Homo sapiens: one gene and its partners. The protein of the gene in region 2 interacts with the protein of the main gene of each other region in a biochemical or structural test. Each region holds a gene or a part of one and is shown on either strand. Other genes may lie near its edges.

Region 1 (5,633 bases), on a different chromosome or scaffold from region 2:
TGACCCTCAGGCTACGTCAGCTCTCTAAAAACTAGAGCTCAAGCTCAACAGCCCTGCAGCCAGAGGCCTCAAACGTAGGGGGCAGGGGCGGGGCACTGGGGTAGGCCTGGGCTGCAGTGGCCAGCCTTCTTTAAGAGCAGGGGCTATTAAATTGAGGCAGTATCTCATCCCATAACTTACATGTATTTTTTACATCATTCTTATCACTACAGTAAATTAAATAACTTCACGAATCTATTAAGAATGACAACCAAAGAAGGCACAACCCGTTTTGGAAGCCAGTGCTTTAAACTGAGTCTGGCCAGTTAACATGCAGTGAAGAAGTCGGAGGACGCTTGGCTGCCACCTGGTGGGACAAGGAGAGAGAGGAAAAGGCCAGATAGAAATTTCTGGCCAAATTGTCTTCAAAAAACCATGGGTCTCCTGCAGAGGCAGTTGTGTGGGGCCTGTGATCCAGCTCGCCACACTCACCACCCCCCCCCCGCCAATTCTTCACCACTGGAAAAAAATGGACTCAAAGCTGCAGTTCATACAATTGAAGATTTATGTAAGTTACTTACTTATTTTTAAACTGCACAATGCTGAAGCCAGTCTAAAAAAGAATCAAACACACCACTGCAAGTTAATTCAATGAGTTACTTTTTTTTTTTTTTAAACAGATTTGTACAGCAAAAAGTTCCCAGATCACAGTCTCTACCATACAGTCACCTGTCCAGTGTGCAGGAAGCCACAGGGGCCCTGGCCAGAGGGGCCAAGAGCAGAAGCTGCACTGCAGAGTTTACTTCTACCTACAGGTGACATGTGGCTGGAAGAATCTTGAGTTCCCTTTGTTCTCCAGTGTATCTTGTACAAAATATTACATTTGTTTAAACACATATTTACAGAGTTTGCACAAATAGAAAATGGTTACAAATTACAACCAGGCTTGGCAGGATACCAGTTCCCCTCCCCACTGACCAAGGTCAGATGTGATGACCATTTCATATTTACAGTTGCAATTTAAAAAGTCTGTGTTTAGAGACCTAAATGAAGTTTATAAAAACTGGTTAAATATCATCAACTCATTTATGTAAGCTGTACAAGTAGTGGATACCAATTAGTCAGTTCATGTCTTGCTCCCTGAAGAAAGATTTTGAAGTAAAAGAAACCCTCTCAAGCAAGCAACATACATCCCTGGCCTGTCTGCCAGTTTGTTTGGTTTTTGCCGGGGAAGGAGATAGAAGGAAGAAGAGGGGAATGGAACAGGGGGAATAGGACAATCTGGTTGAAACTGTTTCTATTCCTTTTTTTTTTTTTTTTTAAACAGCTGAGAACCAGCATAAGCCAGCTGGCTTGTTAAACACTATCCTTTGGCTTTGCGAAGAGAACCCATAGTTCCATCCTTTTTTCTCAGAGACGAAATGTCTTCTCAATAGGACTACAGTATGGAGAAAGAAAGGACTTTCTGGAGAGGACAATGTTTGTTATTCCGATGTTCATCTTTGACTTGAGTGCCAAGCCCAATTTCAACAGTGCAAAAAAAGACTCTCAGGAAGCAGCATGGGGGTCAAAGGCTTGTGTAGTAGCTGTCTACCCACTGGGCAAGGCCTCGCTCCACCAGGGACCGGTTTATCAACACCACCTAGAAAAGAAAGTTCCCTTAAAGCTTTTGTCCATGGCATCCTGGGGCCATCTCCCTAGCCAACATGAGTTCTCCCCTCCCCGGTTGCCACTGCAGGCAACAGATGTATGAGAGTAACAGTGTAGGCCAGACGCAGTGGCTCATGCCTGTAATCCTAGCATTTTGGGAGGCTGAGGCAGGTGGATCACCTGAGGTCAGGAGTTCGAGACCAGCCTGGCCAACATGGTGAAACCCCGTCTCTATTAAACATACAAAAATTAGCCAGGTGTGGTGGCAGGCACCTGTAATCCCAGTTACTGAGGCTGAAGCAGAATCGCTTGAACCCCGGAGGCGGAGGTTACAGTGAGCCAAGATCACGCCACTGCACTCCAGCCTGGATAACAAGAGCAAGACTGTCTCAAAAAAAAAAAAAAAAAAAAGAGTAACAGGGTGGGGGACATGGCTTATGCTCTAGCCAACAGGAACATTTATTTAAGTATTCTGTTGGCTGCTGTGGCATAAGGATAGGGTTTTTTTGTTTTTGTTTTTGTTTTTTGAGACAGAGTCTTGCTCTGTCACCCAGGCTGGAGTGCAGTGGCACAATGTTGGTTCACTGCAACCTCCGTCTCCCAGGTTCAAGTGATTCTCCTGCCTCAGCCTCCCAAGCAGCTGGGATCACAGGTGTGCATCACCACACCCAGCAGATTTTTGCATTTTTAGTAGAGATGGGGGTTTCGCCATGTTGGCCAGGCTGGTCTCAAACTCCTGACCTCAAGTGATCTGCCCGTCTCGGCCTCCCAAAGTGCTGGGATTACAGGGGTGAGCCACTGTACCTGGCCAGGATAGGCTTTTTAATATGCTGAAGAAATCTAAGCTTTCATACCATAAGATAGAGGACAGAAAAACTCAACAGACAGAAGGTCCCAGAAAGTCTCGCACAGGGTTTCTCCACCTTGGCGCTATTGACATTTGCGGTTGGATAATTATTTGCTGTGGGGGGCTGTCCTGAATACTATGGGATGTTTAGTGGCATCCTTGGCCTCTACCCACTAGAGGACACTGACATCACCACTGCCAATCAGGACATCCAAAGTGTTCCCTAGGAGGTGCTTGTCTACAGTTATATCCTCTGATTAACTCAAGAGGAAACAAATCCCAGGACCAGCTCCTAATCAATCCATTACTTCGGGCCAGCAACACAGAAGGAAAAGAAGGGCAGAACTTACTTCATCTCCAACCACACTCCACAGCTGAATCAGAGGAAGACCAGTTGGACTGTAACTTGTCACCTGAAGAAGGGGGGTGGAAAGAATAATATGGTTAGGTTTTGTGTCCCCACTCAAATATCATCTTGAATTGTCATCTCCATAATCCCCATGTGTCGAGGGAGAGACCTGGTGGGAGGTGATTGGATCATGAGGCGGTGTGCCCATGCTGTTCTCGTCATAGTGAGTTCTCATGAGATCTGATGGTTTTATAAGTATCTGACAGTTCCTCCTTCACATACTGTCTCTTGCCTGCCCATCATGTAAGACGTGCCTCTTCCCTTTCTGCCATGATTGTAAGTTTCCTGAGGTCTCCCCAGGCCCGCAGAATTGTGAGTCAATTACACCTCTTTCCTTTATAGATTATTCAGTCCCAGGTATTTCTTTACAGCAATGTGAGAACAGACTAATATCAAGTATTAGCTACTTCATGCACCTTTCCTTAAATACTGCTGGTCAATCCAGGGCCAAGCCACAGGAAAGAAGGCATTGAAAGGTCAGTTCCCAAGAACCCAGCCAGCCTGCCTCCCCCACCCCTGCCAACCACACACCTGAGCAAGCAGTGCTGTATTCCCCGTCATCTCGCTCATGGCGGCATCTGCTTCCGGTGAAAACTGGTCATCGTCTTCAGGAGGAAAAGGAAAAGCGGCATTTAGGCTCTCACTGAGGCAAGGCACCCTTGTCATGTACACAAGTTTCAGGTGCATTCCAAGTAGAATGCTTCAGATGCTGTGGAACTTGAGAACTGCACTGGGGAGATCCACCCAGGTCAGAGACAGAGCCTAGGCCTCCATATGACTCCCAGTGGATAAACTAAGGGCCGCTACTGCATGTTGCCCACTGGTGCAGCACAGACAACAGATGGACAGAAACTTCACCACTAACACCACCACCAATACCACCAGCAGCAGCACCACCCCCACCCCCACCAACTCGGATGCTGGCAGTGCAGAGCATATGTGTTCTTCCACAAAATTAGTAACACCAAGTGCTATCCCCACTTTACAGGAGAGAACACTGAGGCAAAGGTGGATTCCTGAAGGTCAACCAGCTCCCAAGTGGTGAAGGTGGGAATCAAACCCAGGCAGTTGGCCACACAGCCCAATAAGGCCAGCCACTCAGAGTGGGCAAGGCGCTGCGGCAGCATTCAGCTTTGCTGGATTACAAAAGTTACATAGAACACCATACCCAAGGCAAGCAGTGGCAAGGATGGGAGAGACAGGGGTTTACCAAGGAAGATCCGGGAAAATCTTACGAAGGAGAAAGTTTCAGCTGGGTCTGGACAGATCGCTTAGATGGACAGAAGCAGAGAGGAAGGAGGGGCAACAGCAATAAAAGAAGCAAAACAAAGATCTTGCCCCAGTGCTCCCTCTAAGCCGACTCCAGCTAGACTGTAGTATTTCTAACGCATGCAAATCGCTTAAGACAAGCAAGAAGGAGATCAGAAGGGGCAAACCTGGGGAGGGAGTGGGATGGGATGAACTATCACCTACAAATATAAAATTCCTAGCCATAAACAGCTGCCATTTCGCCACCCTCTACACACCAGATCTTAGGTTTATGTAATTCTCACAGCCAGCATCAAAGACAGGTACCATTCCCATGTTCTGGGGTGAAAATTGAGGCTAAGTCATTTACCCAAGATTTTGCCAGTCCTCTTCCCTCTGACAATGCTTTCATAGTCTAAGACACCAGATAGGGTGTCCCCACTGTGCCCTATGGAGCTATGGCCTGGCTGAGCAGTATCAGTGACCAGCACGCCCTCAACCACCGGGGCTAAGACTCTGGGTCTGGACTATAATCTGGAAAGTGCCTTTGTTGGAAGCCCCTTGATGCCTGAGGTCTGAGTACAGTCTAGAGCAGTGGATCTCAAAGGATCAGCAGCACTGGTCTCACCTGGGAACTTGATAGCAATGTAAGTTCCTGGGCCTAAGCCCAGACCTATTCAGTCAGAAACTCTTGAGTGGTAGCAACTTATGTTAGCATAAATCCTCCAGGTGAGAACGGAGGCTCTGAGAAAGACCTACTCTCAACAACTGTCCCCAACAATCCCCCAAGCCAAAGGCCTCAGCTGTTACCTGACAGGGGCATCACACTGTCCAGAAGGACTTCTGCTCCCTGAAACGGCAGGGTGACAAAGTCAGACCTGGGAAGGCAAGAAAGGAACAAGTTTAATGTGGACATGAAGGCTGACTCCACTCCAAGCCAGTATTCATCTTTGTACAGTGACGCCCATAACCTGGGATGCAGCAAAGCAGAGGGTTCGTACTTTGCAGGAGGCCACGGCTCACAGCACACCCAAACACAGCCAGCCGACCCTGCTGCAAGCCTGACCTCAGAGGGACTTCCTATGACAAATTCCTAAAAAGGAGCCTGCTTCACTTTTTTCCTTTTTTGTTGATGTTGTAGAGATGAGGTCTCGCTATACTGCCCGGTCTGGTCTTGAACTCCTGCACTCAAGTGACCCTCCCAAAGCGCTGGGATTTGCAGCAGGCCACCACGCCTGGCCCAGCTTCACTTTTGAAGGATGATGCTGGGGATTCTTCCACAATACAGGCCTTCTAGCTCAGTTTGGCTAAGCGAGTAATCGAGTTTGTTTCTATCAGACTCTGCTAAAACACAGTAGGCAGCAGGAGGGAAGAAGTAACCCTCACCCAAGCCCTGGCACAACTGAGCCAGCCACGCAGAGATCACGCATCCCAGAACAAGCAGGGCGTAGGCCTGCCTGAGGCATCTCCGCTCACCTGATTTGCCGGAGCACGTCTACT
Region 2 (7,865 bases):
GCAGGCTCAGGCACGAGAATCACTTGAACCTGGGAAGTGGAGGTTGCAGTGGGCTGAGATCCTGCCACTGCACTCTAGTCTGGGCAACAGAGTGAGACTCTGTCTCCCCCCACCAAAAAAAAAGAAAAAAAGTATACTTTTTCATAGTAAAGTATAATAAGTACTTTATACATATTCATAAATATTACTGAGATGAATTTCTGAAAATGTTCACCAATTGCCAGGAAGAAACCAGAATTTATTTCAAATTTATTTCAATTTGGATTAAAAAAACTAATCTAAATTCCTATGACAGCCAGATCTGTTTCCTCTGGTTTCACTGAATGCCATATCTTACTGAATTATCAAATGAAGCATATTCGTTTTCCTATGTGTATAAATGAGATTTAAAAATCACTGACTTTTTGACCGGGCACGGTGGCTCATGCCTGTAATCCTGGCACTTTGGGAGGCTGAGGCGGGTGGATCACGAGGTCAGGAGATCGAGATCATCCTGGCCAACATGGTGAAACCCCGTGTCTACTAAAATACAAAAAATTATCCCGGGGGGTGTTGGCAGGCGCCTGTAATCCCAGCTACTCAGGAGGATGAGGCAGGGGAATCGCTTGAACCCAGGAGGCGGAGGTTGCAATGCGCCGAGATTGCGCCACTGCACTCCAGCCTGGCGACAGAGCAAGACTCTGTCCCAAAAGAAAGAAAGAAAGAAAAAAAAATCACTGACTTTTCAAGCCAGTAATGGCATGTTGGGGAAAAAGAAATTGACTTTGTTATAACTTTTATATCAAATAATCTTAATAAATAAGGTTAAGATCAGGTTACTAGTTTTAGAAACCTTTCCAAAAGTTCTGTTGAAAAACAACAATAGGCTGGGCATGGTGGCTCACGCCTGTAATCCCAGCACTTTGGGAGGCCGAGGTGGGCAGATCACCTGAGGTCAGGAGTTCGAGACCAGCCTGGCCAACATGGAGAAACATCATCTCTACTAAAAATACAAAATTATCCGGGCATGGTGGTGCATGCCTGTAATCACAGCTACTCAGGAGGCTGAGGCAGGAGAATCGCTTGAACCCAGGAGGTGGAGGTTGCGGTGAGCTGAGATCATGCCATTGCACTCCAGCCTGGGCTACAGAGTGAGACTCCGTCTCAAAAAAAAAAAAAAAAAGAATATAATTTTAGGCCATGCGCATTGGCTCATGCCTGTAATCCCAGCACTTTGGGAGGCCGAGGTGGCCAGATCATCTGAGGTCAAGGGTTTGATCTCAGCTCACTGCAACCTCTGCCTTCCAGGTTCAAGCGATTCTCTTGCCTCAGCCTCCCGAGTAGCTGGGACTACAAGCGCCTGCCACCACGCCTGGCTAATTTTTGTATTTTTAGTAGAGGCGGGGTTTTACCATGTTGGCCAGGCTGGTCTGGAACTCCTGACCTCAAATGATCCACCCACCTTGGCCTCCCAAAGTGTTGGGATTACAGGTGTGAGCCACCCCGCCCAGCCTATATTCTTAATAGAGAATATATACACTCCTCCTCCAGGTATCATGTTTTTTTCATTGTATTGTGATGTCTAAATATAAGTGATTTTAAATTCCTGACATTTAAGTATATTATTGGTAACAGATTCACACTTTGGCCAGGTGTGGTGACCCACACCTGTAATTCCCACACTTTGGGAGGTGAAGGCAAGAGGATCACTTGAGTCTAGGAGTTTAAGACTAGCTGCAGCAATAGAGTGAGACCCTGTCTCTACAAAAAAATAAAAAAAATTATCTGGGTGTAGTTGCACACACCTGCAGTCCCAGCTACTCAGGAGGCTGAGAGGGGAGATGATCGCTTGAGTCTGGGAGGTTGAGGCTGCAGGGAGTTGTGGTTGCAACACTGTACTCCAGCCTGGGCAACAGAGGGAGACTCTGTCTCAACAAACAAACAAACAAAGAAAAAACCCCACAGCTATCTAGGGAAAAAGTAAAGCAACCAGCATATAGAAGTGACATATTGTTATATTTTCACCATAGGTTTGCTTTAAGAAATAGTGCTCCCTTCAGAATGGAAGAATTTATCTGCCTCTTATTTGATGTGGATCAGAGCTAAGATGGCTGACTAAATAAACATGGGGGACTGGAATCTCCTTGGAGATACTCTGGAGGAAGTTCACATCCACTCCACCATGATTGGAAAGATCTGGCTCACCATCCTGTTCATATTTCGAATGCTTGTTCTGGGTGTAGCAGCTGAAGATGTCTGGAATGATGAGCAGTCTGGCTTCATCTGCAATACAGAACAACCAGGCTGCAGAAATGTATGCTACGACCAGGCCTTTCCTATCTCCCTCATTAGATACTGGGTTCTGCAGGTGATATTTGTGTCTTCACCATCCCTGGTCTACATGGGCCATGCATTGTACCGACTGAGAGTTCTTGAGGAAGAGAGGCAAAGGATGAAAGCTCAGTTAAGAGTAGAACTGGAGGAGGTAGAGTTTGAAATGCCTAGGGATCGGAGGAGATTGGAGCAAGAGCTTTGTCAGCTGGAGAAAAGGAAACTAAATAAAGCTCCACTCAGAGGAACCTTGCTTTGCACTTATGTGATACACATTTTCACTCGCTCTGTGGTTGAAGTTGGATTCATGATTGGACAGTACCTTTTATATGGATTTCACTTAGAGCCGCTATTTAAGTGCCATGGCCACCCGTGTCCAAATATAATCGACTGTTTTGTCTCAAGACCAACAGAAAAGACAATATTCCTATTATTTATGCAATCTATAGCCACTATTTCACTTTTCTTAAACATTCTTGAAATTTTCCACCTAGGTTTTAAAAAGATTAAAAGAGGGCTTTGGGGAAAATACAAGTTGAAGAAGGAACATAATGAATTCCATGCAAACAAGGCAAAACAAAATGTAGCCAAATACCAGAGCACATCTGCAAATTCACTGAAGCGACTCCCTTCTGCCCCTGATTATAATCTGTTAGTGGAAAAGCAAACACACACTGCAGTGTACCCTAGTTTAAATTCATCTTCTGTATTCCAGCCAAATCCTGACAATCATAGTGTAAATGATGAGAAATGCATTTTGGATGAACAGGAAACTGTACTTTCTAATGAGATTTCCACACTTAGTACTAGTTGTAGTCATTTTCAACACATCAGTTCAAACAATAACAAAGACACTCATAAAATATTTGGAAAAGAACTTAATGGTAACCAGTTAATGGAAAAAAGAGAAACTGAAGGCAAAGACAGCAAAAGGAACTACTACTCTAGAGGTCACCGTTCTATTCCAGGTGTTGCTATAGATGGAGAGAACAACATGAGGCAGTCACCCCAAACAGTTTTCTCCTTGCCAGCTAACTGCGATTGGAAACCGCGGTGGCTTAGAGCTACATGGGGTTCCTCTACAGAACATGAAAACCGGGGGTCACCTCCTAAAGGTAACCTCAAGGGCCAGTTCAGAAAGGGCACAGTCAGAACCCTTCCTCCTTCACAAGGAGATTCTCAATCACTTGACATTCCAAACACTGCTGATTCTTTGGGAGGGCTGTCCTTTGAGCCAGGGTTGGTCAGAACCTGTAATAATCCTGTTTGTCCTCCAAATCACGTAGTGTCCCTAACGAACAATCTCATTGGTAGGCGGGTTCCCACAGATCTTCAGATCTAAACAGCGGTTGGCTTTTAGACATTATATATATTATCAGAGAAGTAGCCTAGTGGTCGTGGGGCACAGAAAAAATAGATAGGGGCAGCTCTAAAGACCAGCTGTTAAGACAGACAACTGCAAACTCATTTAAGCAAGAGAAAAACAGCTCTAATTCGAGATTGTGAAGCAACACTTCTAAATTCAAAGACATAGAGTTGTCAAATCAGGATTTTTTTTTTTTTAAATGATATCCTTTCGAATGTAACTGATTTTGGGAAAATCACATGTTCAGAATTGAGGCTAAATGGTTTGATCAGGTTTTCTCTTTGAAGAGACCACAGCCTTAGGAAATGGTTCTTGATCTATACAATTCCACCTTGGACACTGGGTTAATTCTGTTTGCCCCTGGAACACAATCACGTAAGTTTCCTTCTAGACTGGCATCCTGATGTGTCTTGAGTATAATCACATGTTGCTACCTAGTAAATAAAATCTTAAGAAGATCCGTGGCTTTCCTTCACCAGTTCATAGCATCGTGATTCATTGCCCGGATTGGACTCGACTCTACTCACTGGACATCTAACCACTCCACTTAATTAACAATACCCACCCTACAGGGGTGTTGTAAGGATTAAAATTTAAAATACCCGTGTTTTCTACAGTGCCTGGCTCAAAAGCTACTGCAAGCTCGTTACTGCTCATCCTCCAGAGGCCCACATCAAGTCAGCCACGACTCAAGGAGACTCCAAAGATAAAAGCTGAAGCCAAAATATATGATTCTAAACACCCTCCTCGGCTACTGCAAAGCACTGTGAGCACTTTCTCAGGACGAGAGCCAAGAAGCCCAGCACCTATGGGTCACCACAGTTTCCGAGGTCCCAGATGAAAAAGATGCGCTCGCTACCACCGTGCGGCGGTCCTTTCTCTCGCAATAGTCTCAATGCTCCCGGGCCCTGCCTCCGGACGCCAGGACAGAGGTACCAAAATCTCACCTCCTGCAAAGAAACCTAATTGCTACGGGGGCCGGAAGAGGAAGAGGTGCGGCTCCGACAGCCAGAGGGGCGGGCATACGCAGCCTCCCTCGGCTCAGCCTGCTACTGGGGATGCAGAGCGTCCTGGTCGCCATGAAAACAGGCCACACCTCGGCGATCCCGGCCGGTGGTTTGCAAGTGCGCAGGCGCGCGCCCCCTTCCGCGCATGAGCAGTGCTGCTCCCAACCCGCCAGTCGCGGTCTCCGGCGCCAGCTACGCCGCTGCCGCTGTCACTATGGCCCATTACAAAGTGAGGGGGGCGCGGCGTGGCTGGGGGCATGCGGGCGGTAGCAAGCCGCTGGTCGGCTCTGGGTGGGAGTGGGGTCGCGCGCGCAGGTTTGGGCGGGAGGGCCCCGAGGTAGTGAGGCGGAGGCGGGGTTGCCGGACTCCCAGCGCCTTCTTCCTGCTCGGCTCCCGGGCTCTGGCCACTGACCCCCGGTGTCTCTTCAGGCCGCCGACTCGAAGCGTGAGCAGTTCCGGAGGTACTTGGAGAAGTCGGGGGTGCTGGACACGCTGACCAAGGGTGAGCCTGGGCTAGGAGAGGGTACCTCGTGCCCTCGTCGTGCTCCCCGGCGCTGCCCCGTTCCCCAGCGGGCCGTAGCGTGGGGAAGGAGGGGAAACAGATGGGGCCCGTCCGGGGTCCAGCGAGGTGGGCCTCGGGGTTCAGCAGGGACCTGGCTGCTGGACGCCGCCCGGGTGGGGTAGCCTAGCTCCGCTACCCTTCTCCGCACCGGGAGTGAAACTCTTGCAGCTGTTGCAAAGTCTCTTCAACTTCCGTTGCTTTGCCTCCAGCAGCCGCAGTGGACATGTTTGCCAAGGACCTTCAGATCCCAATTCCTCCCACCTTACGGTTTTTATGGAGTCCTCAGAATCTTGTTAAGAAAGTTTCCCTCCAACAAAGAGCAACTGGAAAAATGACCGAATTTCCAAGTGGGCTATGAAGTAGCTGAGTGAGCCTAATCCCCAAAGTAGGAGATTCATAGCGAATTTGGCTGTGGCTTTTCAGCCCCCATTCCTTAGTCTGTCTGTGTCAATTCTTATTTTGTGTATATTTCATAAAGTAGAATTACAGCTTAAAGAGCTCGAGGGCATATCAAGGTGGTTACATTGTTTTCACTTTTTAAAATGAAAGCTTACTGTTAACGCTGTATCTCTTCATTCGTGGCTTCAAGATCTAAGTTAAGTAGATGAGTAAAGTGTTGGAAACAGGAGGATTTCAAGGGGTAGGGTACAGTTTACTTTATTGGCTTAGCACTAATTTGAATGCCTGCTATGTGTCACTCAACTCACTGGGATATTCAAGGGTGTAGAATGGAATTGTTCGCAGGGATGAGGACTTGGGTCATATGAAACTAGGAAGTTTGGGAAGTGGGAAATAAATTGGTAACTGCCCTTTGGACAGAAGCAAAGTTTAGAGGAAAATTCTAGGAGCATAACTCCTGGGTCTTAGAAGAAAGAAGGCTAGTAATTTTGAATTGCTACCTATTTGGGGTTCAGATAATAGTTTACCTCTTTGCAAATAAACTTCAGCAAGTCTTAAGGGACTACTCTGTGAAAGTACTGTGCTATGTTGTCTCTGAAAGTGTCACAGATGCTTTGAATGTCATTCCGTCTAAAAACTCCTTACGTTCATTTCTTTCATTTAATAATTTTACTCAGGTGTCTGTTCTGCACACTGGAGATAAGCAGGGGAGGATAAAAGTCTCGGCTCTCATAAGCTTATATCCTAGTTGAGGGAGAGAAATACATAAATAAATATGTAGTGTCAGCTAGTGGTAAGTGGTACAGATAAAAATACAGCAAAGTTAGGGATAAAGAGTAACAGGTGAGGCCAGGCACGTGGCTCATGCCTGTAATCTCAGCACTTTGGGAGGCTGAGGTGGGTGGACTGCTAGAGGCCAGGAGCTCAAGACCAGCCTGGGCAACATGGCAAAACTCCCATCTCTTAAAAAAAAAAAAAAATTGCTGGGCATGGTGTGTGCCTGTAATCTAGCTACTGTGGAGGCTGAGGTGAGAGAATCACCTGAGCCCAGGAGGTCAAGGCTGCAGTGAGTTGTGATTGTGCCACTGGGCAACAGTGACACTCTGTCTCCAAAAAAAAAAAAAAAAAAAAGTGACAGGTGGGATGTGTGTGTCATTTTATATAGGGTGATGGGGGGAAGGCCTTTCTTAAGAAGTAATTTTTGACCAGAAACCTGAAAGAAACAGAGTTTCAGGAAGTCTAAGGAGGCCAGAGTGGTTGGATGGAGCAAGTGAAAGACTGAATGGTAAAAGGCAGAAAAATGACAGTTGTAGGCGGTAACTGACTACACAGAAGATGTTGCCCAGGCTGGAGTGCAGCGGCATGATCTCGGCTCACTGCAACCTCCACCTCCGGGTTCAAGCGATTGTGTTGCCTCAGCCTTCCAAGTAGCTGGGATTACAGGCATGTGCCACCATGCTTAGCTAATTTTTTGTATTTTTAGTAGAGAGGCGGTTTCACCACATGGGCCAGGCTGGTCTTGAACTCCTTACCTCAGGTGATCCGCTCACCTCAGCCCCGCAGAGTGCTGGGATTACAGGTGTGAGCCACCGCCCTCCACTAGAATTTAACCTCTCAATCTCCTTAGATTTCCAGGCTCCTAAATAACATCAGCCAACACAGTATTGATGTGATTTATTAAAAATTTGATTTTCAGCTCCAAACATAGGTGCTTTACACAATTCTATTTGTTTTTTTTTTTTTTTTTTTTTTTTTTTTTGAGACGGAGTCTCGCTCTGTCGCCCAGGCCGGACTGCGGACTGCAGTGGCGCAATCTCGGCTCACTGCAAGCTCCGCTTCCCGGGTTCACGCCATTCTCCTGCCTCAGCCTCCCGAGTAGCTGGGACTACAGGCGCCCGCCACCGCGCCCGGCTAATTTTTTGTATTTTTAGTAGAGACGGGGTTTCACCTTGTTAGCCAGGATGGTCTCGATCTCCTGACCTCATGATCCACCCGCCTCGGCCTCCCAAAGTGCTGGGATTACAGGCGTGAGCCACCGCGCCCGGCCTCTATTTGTTTTTACTTTTTATTTTTTTTGAGACAGAGTCTCACTCTGTCACCCAGGAATGCCTGGCCTCAAGTGATCCTTCTGCCTTAGCTTCCCCAAGTGTTGACGTTACAGGCGTGACCCACTGTGCCCAGCCTCACAAATTTAATTTACATATATATATTTTTTCGAGAC
Region 3 (7,034 bases), on a different chromosome or scaffold from region 2:
CAGTTAGAAAGAAATACCTGTTTGGAAGTTCAACCTGTGCTGGAGCAAGTACTTTAAATAGTTGTTTTTTTTTTTTGTCTTGTTTTGTTTTTTGAGATGGAGTCTCACTCTGCCACCCAGGCTTGAGGACAGTGGCGTGATCTCAGCTCACTGCAACATCCACCTCCCGGGTTCAAGTGATTGTCCTGACTCAGCCTCCCAAGTAGCTGGGATTACAGGTGCCCACCACCTCACCCAGCTAATTTTTGTATTTTTAGTAGAGTCAGAGTCTCATCATGTTGGCCAGGCTGGTCTCAGACTCCTGACCTCAAGTTATCCTCCTGCCTCGGCCTTCCAAAGTGCTGAGATTACAGGTCTGAGCCACCGCACACGGGCTTTAGTTTGTAATGCTGAACTGTAACTGCTATTGAAGTCACTTTCCAATAGTTGCTATAAATTTCTAACATGTAGATAATATATGGCTTCTTATGTTTTCAGTAGAAATTATTCTACTATAAAATTCTAGTTGAATAAATAACTTCAAATCAGCTTTGTCATCCGAAGTCACATGAAGTTTTATTATATTACTGCACCATTATCTTGAATCAAGAGAATAAATTATTTTTTCTCAAATTAAATAATTACACATTTGAACCATGTGATCAAATGTGCTTAGTTTATAATAAGGCCTAATGAACTCCTCTGATGAAGGTTTCTGGCTTCGTATCTTTCCAGGTGGGTCAGGGAATAGAATGTAAAAGAGGAAAGCTACTTTGAACTCTTTCAGTAACTTAATACATGGTTTCTTAACTAACTTCTTAATTTCTCCAACCTATTTTTTCCCCATTTCTGTTGGCTTTAGGGGAGAGTAAAATATGAGTAACAAAGAGCAATGATCCCTTTCCCACCTCCTCCCCAACCTCAAACAGGACCCAAACTCAGAAAGGTCCCACATCTGCTCCATGCTGGCCTGACCCCTGCTGTGTCCTGGCTCCTGCCCTCAGGCTCACCTGCTCTGGCTTTAGTACTCTTATGGCAGCCAGGGCTGCTCTATGTGTTCTATCCAGGCCCTTTCCTCCTCCACCACTGCCCAGGCACCAGGAGCATGCACTGTCTGCCATACCTACAGTCTTCTAGATTTTCTCTCCCAGCCCCAACAGAGCTGTACAGAGAGGGGCTTCACAAACCTAGCAAATCCTGTTCTACTATGAACTTCATTGAATGTTTTAAAAGTATTAACTTTTTATTCTCTTTGAAAAGGTGCTTATGTAGAATCCAAAGGAAAGACTCCAACAGCTAGCCATGAAAAGGGTGTGGCTGGAGAAGGCCAGCTGGTCCCAAGACAATTCCATCCCTGATAACACAAGGTGGCATTATACTCACTGCTCAGAAACTCAAACATACTGGAATTCCAGAATTGACCTCACTCAGGAATACTGATTCATTCTTTAAAAAGTTCTAAGACAGATAGAGAGTAGCTACAATGTCAAATGTCATGGTTTAACTCTTGGATGGAATCTTTATCCCTTGTGTCACGGTTATTTAGGGAGGAGTTGGGGAGGTCATGGTGTTCATCACTGCAGGCCTCTGAACTCCCTAGAATTAGTTAACAACTTTTAGACTGAGGCAGTTATGACCTCCAAAGCAGGTAATTCAGTGAGCCTGATTTTAAAGAATTACCAGAAGGCTCTTTAGGGATCTACATAGCTCATAGCTCCCCTTTTGCTCATACAAAACATTTCATAGAATATAAGTCTACAGCTATTTCTGGATAAACTGGTACCCCAAGAAGTTGCTCTGTCTAGGGAGAGCAGGGAATCTGTACTCCATCTCTATAAAGAGCCAAAGCCATCCACACAGTCTTAAAAAAATGTCAAGGGTGAAGTAGAGTCATAACTAGCATTTATCTTGAGGATTACAGACATTTAATAACACATGTCCTGTTCATATGATGATATATATTATTAGGAATAACTATATTCTTTAAATGCACCCTTGAAAACCTAGTCCTGAATAAATTTGTATTCAGAAATATGAGACCTTAAAAAAGGTTTCTATTCCTGATAATTTCATGAATACCTTAGACTTTTTTCTCTTACAGAAATATTAAATTATATTAACAGAGGAAAGAGTGTAGCAAAAATTAGATTTTTAAAGGAATACTCTACCAGTCTGCTGTCTTGTCCTGAAACTAGAGACAAGAAATACACATTTGTCTCAGATTCAGCCCTTGTCCCTTACCTCCCTCTTACCTTGGTTCACTCCGTTGTGGGGCAGAAACCATGTTTTATTTATCTTTGTATACCACATTATCTGTGTAGATTAGATGGTTATTAAGTTATAAAATTCTAGCATTCAAAAAATATTACATGACTGATTTGTTTATTTAATGAAATGTTGAAGAACTGTCATCAAATAAGTGTTTCAGAGAAGCAAAAGAAGATATTTAAAGCACTTTTCAACTTTTTTAAACTACAACTGCTACAATTTGAATATGTGTCTGTGTCTTCTCCAAAATTCATGTTTAAACTTAGTCCCCATTGTCGTGGTATTAAGAGGTAAGGCTTTTAGGGGAAGTGATTAAGTCACGAGGACTCCACCCTCATCAATGGATTAGTGCCTTATAAAAGGATTACAGAGAACTAGCATAGGTCCTTTTTGGCCTTCCACCTTCCTCCACGTGAGGACACAGCATTTGCTTCTTCTGCCATGTGAAGACACAGCAAGAAGGCCCTCACCGACACTGACTGCCCATTGGACTGCCTTGCTTCTTGGACTGCCCAGCCTTCAGAACTTCAAGAAATAAATTTATTTTATTTATATCACCCAATCTGTTAATTTGTTATAGCAGCACAAATGGACAACTAACAGTAAGAAATACATTTTATATCATAATCCATCATATACATATAAACATATGCATATATTTTTCTGAAACAAAAGTTATAAACAAAAACCAACTTACCCTCCATATACTTGATGCTTTGGTTATTTTCTATTCTGTTTCATGTTTTAAAATGCTGCTCATGACACACTAGAAGATTTCATACCCTTCTAATGTTTTGTGATCCACAATTTGAAAAATAGTGATTTAGTGAACTATCTTCTAAGAAAAAATATGGAAGCAAACAATAAATAAACTGAAAAAGAGTTTTCAAATAATGGTTACTTACTTGGATACGGCATAAACAACATTGAATGGCATCTGCTGAAAAAATGGGAGAAAAGGCCTGGGAGGAAAAAGAAAACATAAATGTGTGGGACTTTTGCAATGAATGCACTCTAAGCTCTCTTCCAGCTCTAATATTTGTCCCTTAAAAATCAGTGAGCTTAAATATCCCATATATCAGTGTTACTCAAACTTCTGGACATAAAAAATCACTGCAGGGTGGGGAGGTTCTTGTCTAAAATGCAGATTCCCAGGTCTGGCCCATGAGATTCAGTACATATAGGGTAGAGCCAATGAATGTGCATTCTTAATAAACACTCCAGTATTTTCTCTTCAGATGGGAAACAAGTCACACTTGAAGAAGCCACACTTTAAGCCCTGTACTTGGGCTTCAGCTGGCCATTAGTTCCCAACAACTTCTCAAGTTCCTGAGACATTCTGGAATTCACAGTGATTTAATATGAAGCCTCCCCCTAAAAGTTAAGAATTGTACAGTTAACTGTACAGAATTGTATAGTTAACAGTTAAGAATTTAACATTTCTCTGGAAAAGTCAGTATCACAAAATTTCCATAAGGAGGTTGCTCATAAATAATAATGTGGATTAGAAATTTACTTTCTCAAGGAAGCTTATACAGATGTGGTATCAAGACTATTTTTTCTAACTCCAGTAGGATATATAAGGAAATCCCCATCTAATTTTAATTTGATTTGAGTATATGGTTATTACATAAGCATAAATCACAAATGAAATAAAATGAACCTTTTGGCCTTGTTGGTTTAGGCAAGATTCATACAAAGAGAACAAATGTTATCCCTTTGAACACAAGTTTCCCCTTCACTATGACTTCATGGTATCTCCAACTGTGTGTCGTTCATTTGATGACTTCATTTCAAATATTTTCAAATACATATTCTTAGTTGCAATCAGTATCTCTAAAGTCAGGCAGGCTTAGTTGGAACCCCAGATCTACCCCTTGCTAGCTTATATGACCTTGAGCAATCTATTTATCATCTCTCGGTCTCAGCTTCATTACTGGTAAAACAGGGATCATATATATCTTAGCCTACATTCCTGTTTTAACGATTAGATCATATGCATGTAAAGCACTTAAAATAGAGTCTGGCACGTTGTATGCACTGAAAAATGATAACTATTATTATTATCATAAAGAGGTTCTCTAATAATATTAGGGCTCAAATATTCATTAGTAATTATGTTCTACCTTTCAAAGTATTTATAGCGATTCTTTCCAGTAACTTCAGGATCTTCATAAACTTCTTTAGGCATCTGAAAAGAAGCGTCAGTTCTAAAATGAAGCAAGAAAACATTATTCAAGTCTAAAATATTTCCACATATAATTTCTATTTAATATTTCTATGTGTATAGAGTAGGACCTACACAGAGTATCTCATACTGAGAGTAAAGTCTTCCATAACCTGCATTTGACTGCCATACAACTTAGAGTATATATGATTCTTCCCCTGAGCCAGGAGACCAGAACCTAGTCAGACAGAGCAAGAGCTGAGAAAAGAGTGGATTTATGAAATCCCACATACAAAAATGCCCAATTTTAATTAAAAGCACACAAGAATAGCAAAATATTAAAAGACAATTTTTTTTTTTTTTTTTTTTGAGACAGAGTCTCGCTCTGTCACCCAGGCTGGAGTGCAGTGGTGCAATCTCCACCTCCTGGGTTCATGCCATTCTCCTGCCTCAGCCTCCCAAGTAGCTGGGACTACAGGCACCTGCCACCACACCCGGCTAACTTTTTGTATTTTTAGTAGAGACGGGGTTTCACCGTGTTAGCCAGGATGGTCTCAATCTCCTGACCTCATGATCCGCCTGCCTCGGCCTCCCAAAGTGCTGGGATTACAGGCGTGAGCCACTGTGCCTGGCCAAAAGACACTTTTTCTATGTCCAGGTTAAAAGGCTTTATAATTTTTAATTTACTAAATGTGAACTTGTAAGTAATTAAAAGAATAAAGAATTCGACTTATTCTTGAAGGTGCTTTGGCCCCAAGTTCCCAAAAAATATTTTAGATACTAGCAGAACAGAGCACTTTCAGTTGCTAAGTTGGATCCAAGCAACAACAAACTCAATCATCCCTACCTTTGGTGGCAAGTTGTCATTATATATATGACAAAATTATATATATATATATATCTCATATATACAATATATAATCAGGTTTGTTTGGTCAAAAGAGGTTTAGAAAGAAAATTTGGCCTAGGTATAACACCACAACTGAACATTTTAAAACCACACATGGTAAATGAATTTAAAGAAATGCTTTTAATGCATTTATTTTAGGCCCTGGAGCCACCCGACACTTACGTGGTGAGCTGCCGGAGGGCTTCTCTGTGTTTCTCCTTATGTCCCTTCCATTCCCGACTGATAAATGGTGGGACAGGATCTGACTTGCTCCAATATAGAGAATATCTTGGATAATGGATCAGGTTACTGAACATGGTTTTAAACCTGGGAACTTTTCTCTAATGTTAGAGAAGGGAGGCAAAGGACAAAATTATACCATCAGCTTTTCTAAAGCATTTTAATTACATTGTAAACTCTTTTTAAAAACATACAAAACAATGTATACAGCATAAGAAGAGGGGTTATTGCTGTATGCGTAAAATATCTTTAAATACATGCCCAAGAAACTGATGACAATGGCTGTTTATGTGGAGGGGGTAGGGGATAGGGCTAGAATTTACTTCACACTGTATATGCTTTTATACTACTTGAATTCTTTTAACATGGGCATATATTATTAAATTTATCCCATTGAAATAAATTAGCTTATGGGTTCTCTGTTCATTATTGGTGACTTAATCCTCACAATGAGCCACACGTATTAAGATGCTTTGCCCTCCAGTAATCTTGGCAAGGTAATTTCTGTGGAACCTAAAATCCAGTGAAGATTTGGTGATTAGTCAATCTGATCAATGCAGTCAGGCAAACTAGATGGTTCAGGTTCATCAGGTAGCCTTGGCTGATGAATTAGACATACCAGTCTGCTGCGAATCAGGGTAGCTTGGATATTTGCCTGTGTATGGTCTTTCTCACTTGACACAATAAACAATGGATCTGCAAAATAAACAATCAAGTAGCATAACAGATAGAACATATCTACCCCTAGGCTGAGAATAATGGCAAAGTAATGTAATCTCTTAATTGGAAAACAAATTTAAAAGTTTAAATATTGTCTGACTCTGCAGCAGCTCATGCTCTGTTGTGCATGTGGCCCTGTTACTCTACCACTTCTACCAGCAACAGTTGTCAAGATGTTTTTCTTTTCTGAGTATTCCAAGTCAGCTTACGGAAGTGGAATTCATAAAGAAAGTCTAGCATGTTTTCAAGTACTACACCCTGAACACACTTTCTTCTCTCCTATGAACAAAACTCCTTTTGAGCCTGGGTAACCCAAAAAATTCTTCAAGGGAAAGACCTTGTATATACGCACTATGCCAATTTGCAAGTGAAAGAAGCAATACATTTATACCATCTCCCATATTTGGTGCACTAGAAAGATGCAAACCACATGATATCTCAGAATTGGTGAACACGGTTAAAAAAAAAATCAGCTATCTTCAGAATTCACCCCTTAAGTTTGTAAGTTTGCTGATGATGGAACTGTTATTTTTACAAAGTTCAACAAAATATTGCCCTGCTATTATAAGTATCTGTTTATCAGGTATATCTTTAAAGTGATGAAGAATATTCATGATTGACTATACTGTACCACCCTTTAAAATCAACTGATTTGCCATTAAATTAACAAGCAGCCTTTGGATACACTTGATTTCCCAAGTAGACTTGTCTCTGGGGAGGCAAATACCCTGACCAGCTAGTCTAGATAACATGGTAACACATATTTCTCCA

The links. Proteins that work in one complex are often made in the same cells at the same time.
Region 1: the proteins of MYCBP (region 2) and AKAP1 form a complex in vitro, tested with the Homo sapiens proteins (2 studies listed by BioGRID).
Region 3: the proteins of MYCBP (region 2) and CFAP91 form a complex in vitro, tested with the Homo sapiens proteins (one study listed by BioGRID and IntAct).

What each region holds. Positions count from the first base shown.
Region 1 is NC_000017.11:57,116,238-57,121,870, reverse strand, and holds the end of AKAP1 (A-kinase anchor protein 1, mitochondrial precursor), read right to left. Parts: coding exon 5,610-5,633; intron 5,012-5,609; coding exon 4,944-5,011; intron 3,491-4,943; coding exon 3,417-3,490; intron 2,890-3,416; coding exon 2,827-2,889; intron 1,622-2,826; coding exon 1,547-1,621; 3' UTR 527-1,546; downstream 1-526.
Region 2 is NC_000001.11:38,870,338-38,878,202, reverse strand, and holds the start of MYCBP (C-Myc-binding protein), read left to right. Parts: upstream 1-4,854; 5' UTR 4,855-4,897; coding exon 4,898-4,912; intron 4,913-5,112; coding exon 5,113-5,185; intron 5,186-7,865. Other genes in the region: GJA9 (gap junction alpha-9 protein), read left to right, coding at 2,105-3,652. UniProt on the Homo sapiens protein: May control the transcriptional activity of MYC. Stimulates the activation of E box-dependent transcription by MYC.
Region 3 is NC_000003.12:119,706,014-119,713,047, reverse strand, and holds part of CFAP91 (cilia- and flagella-associated protein 91), read right to left. Parts: intron 6,240-7,034; coding exon 6,163-6,239; intron 5,645-6,162; coding exon 5,487-5,644; intron 4,458-5,486; coding exon 4,374-4,457; intron 3,210-4,373; coding exon 3,153-3,209; intron 1-3,152. UniProt on the Homo sapiens protein: Involved in sperm flagellum axonemal organization and function. May regulate cilium motility through its role in the assembly of the axonemal radial spokes.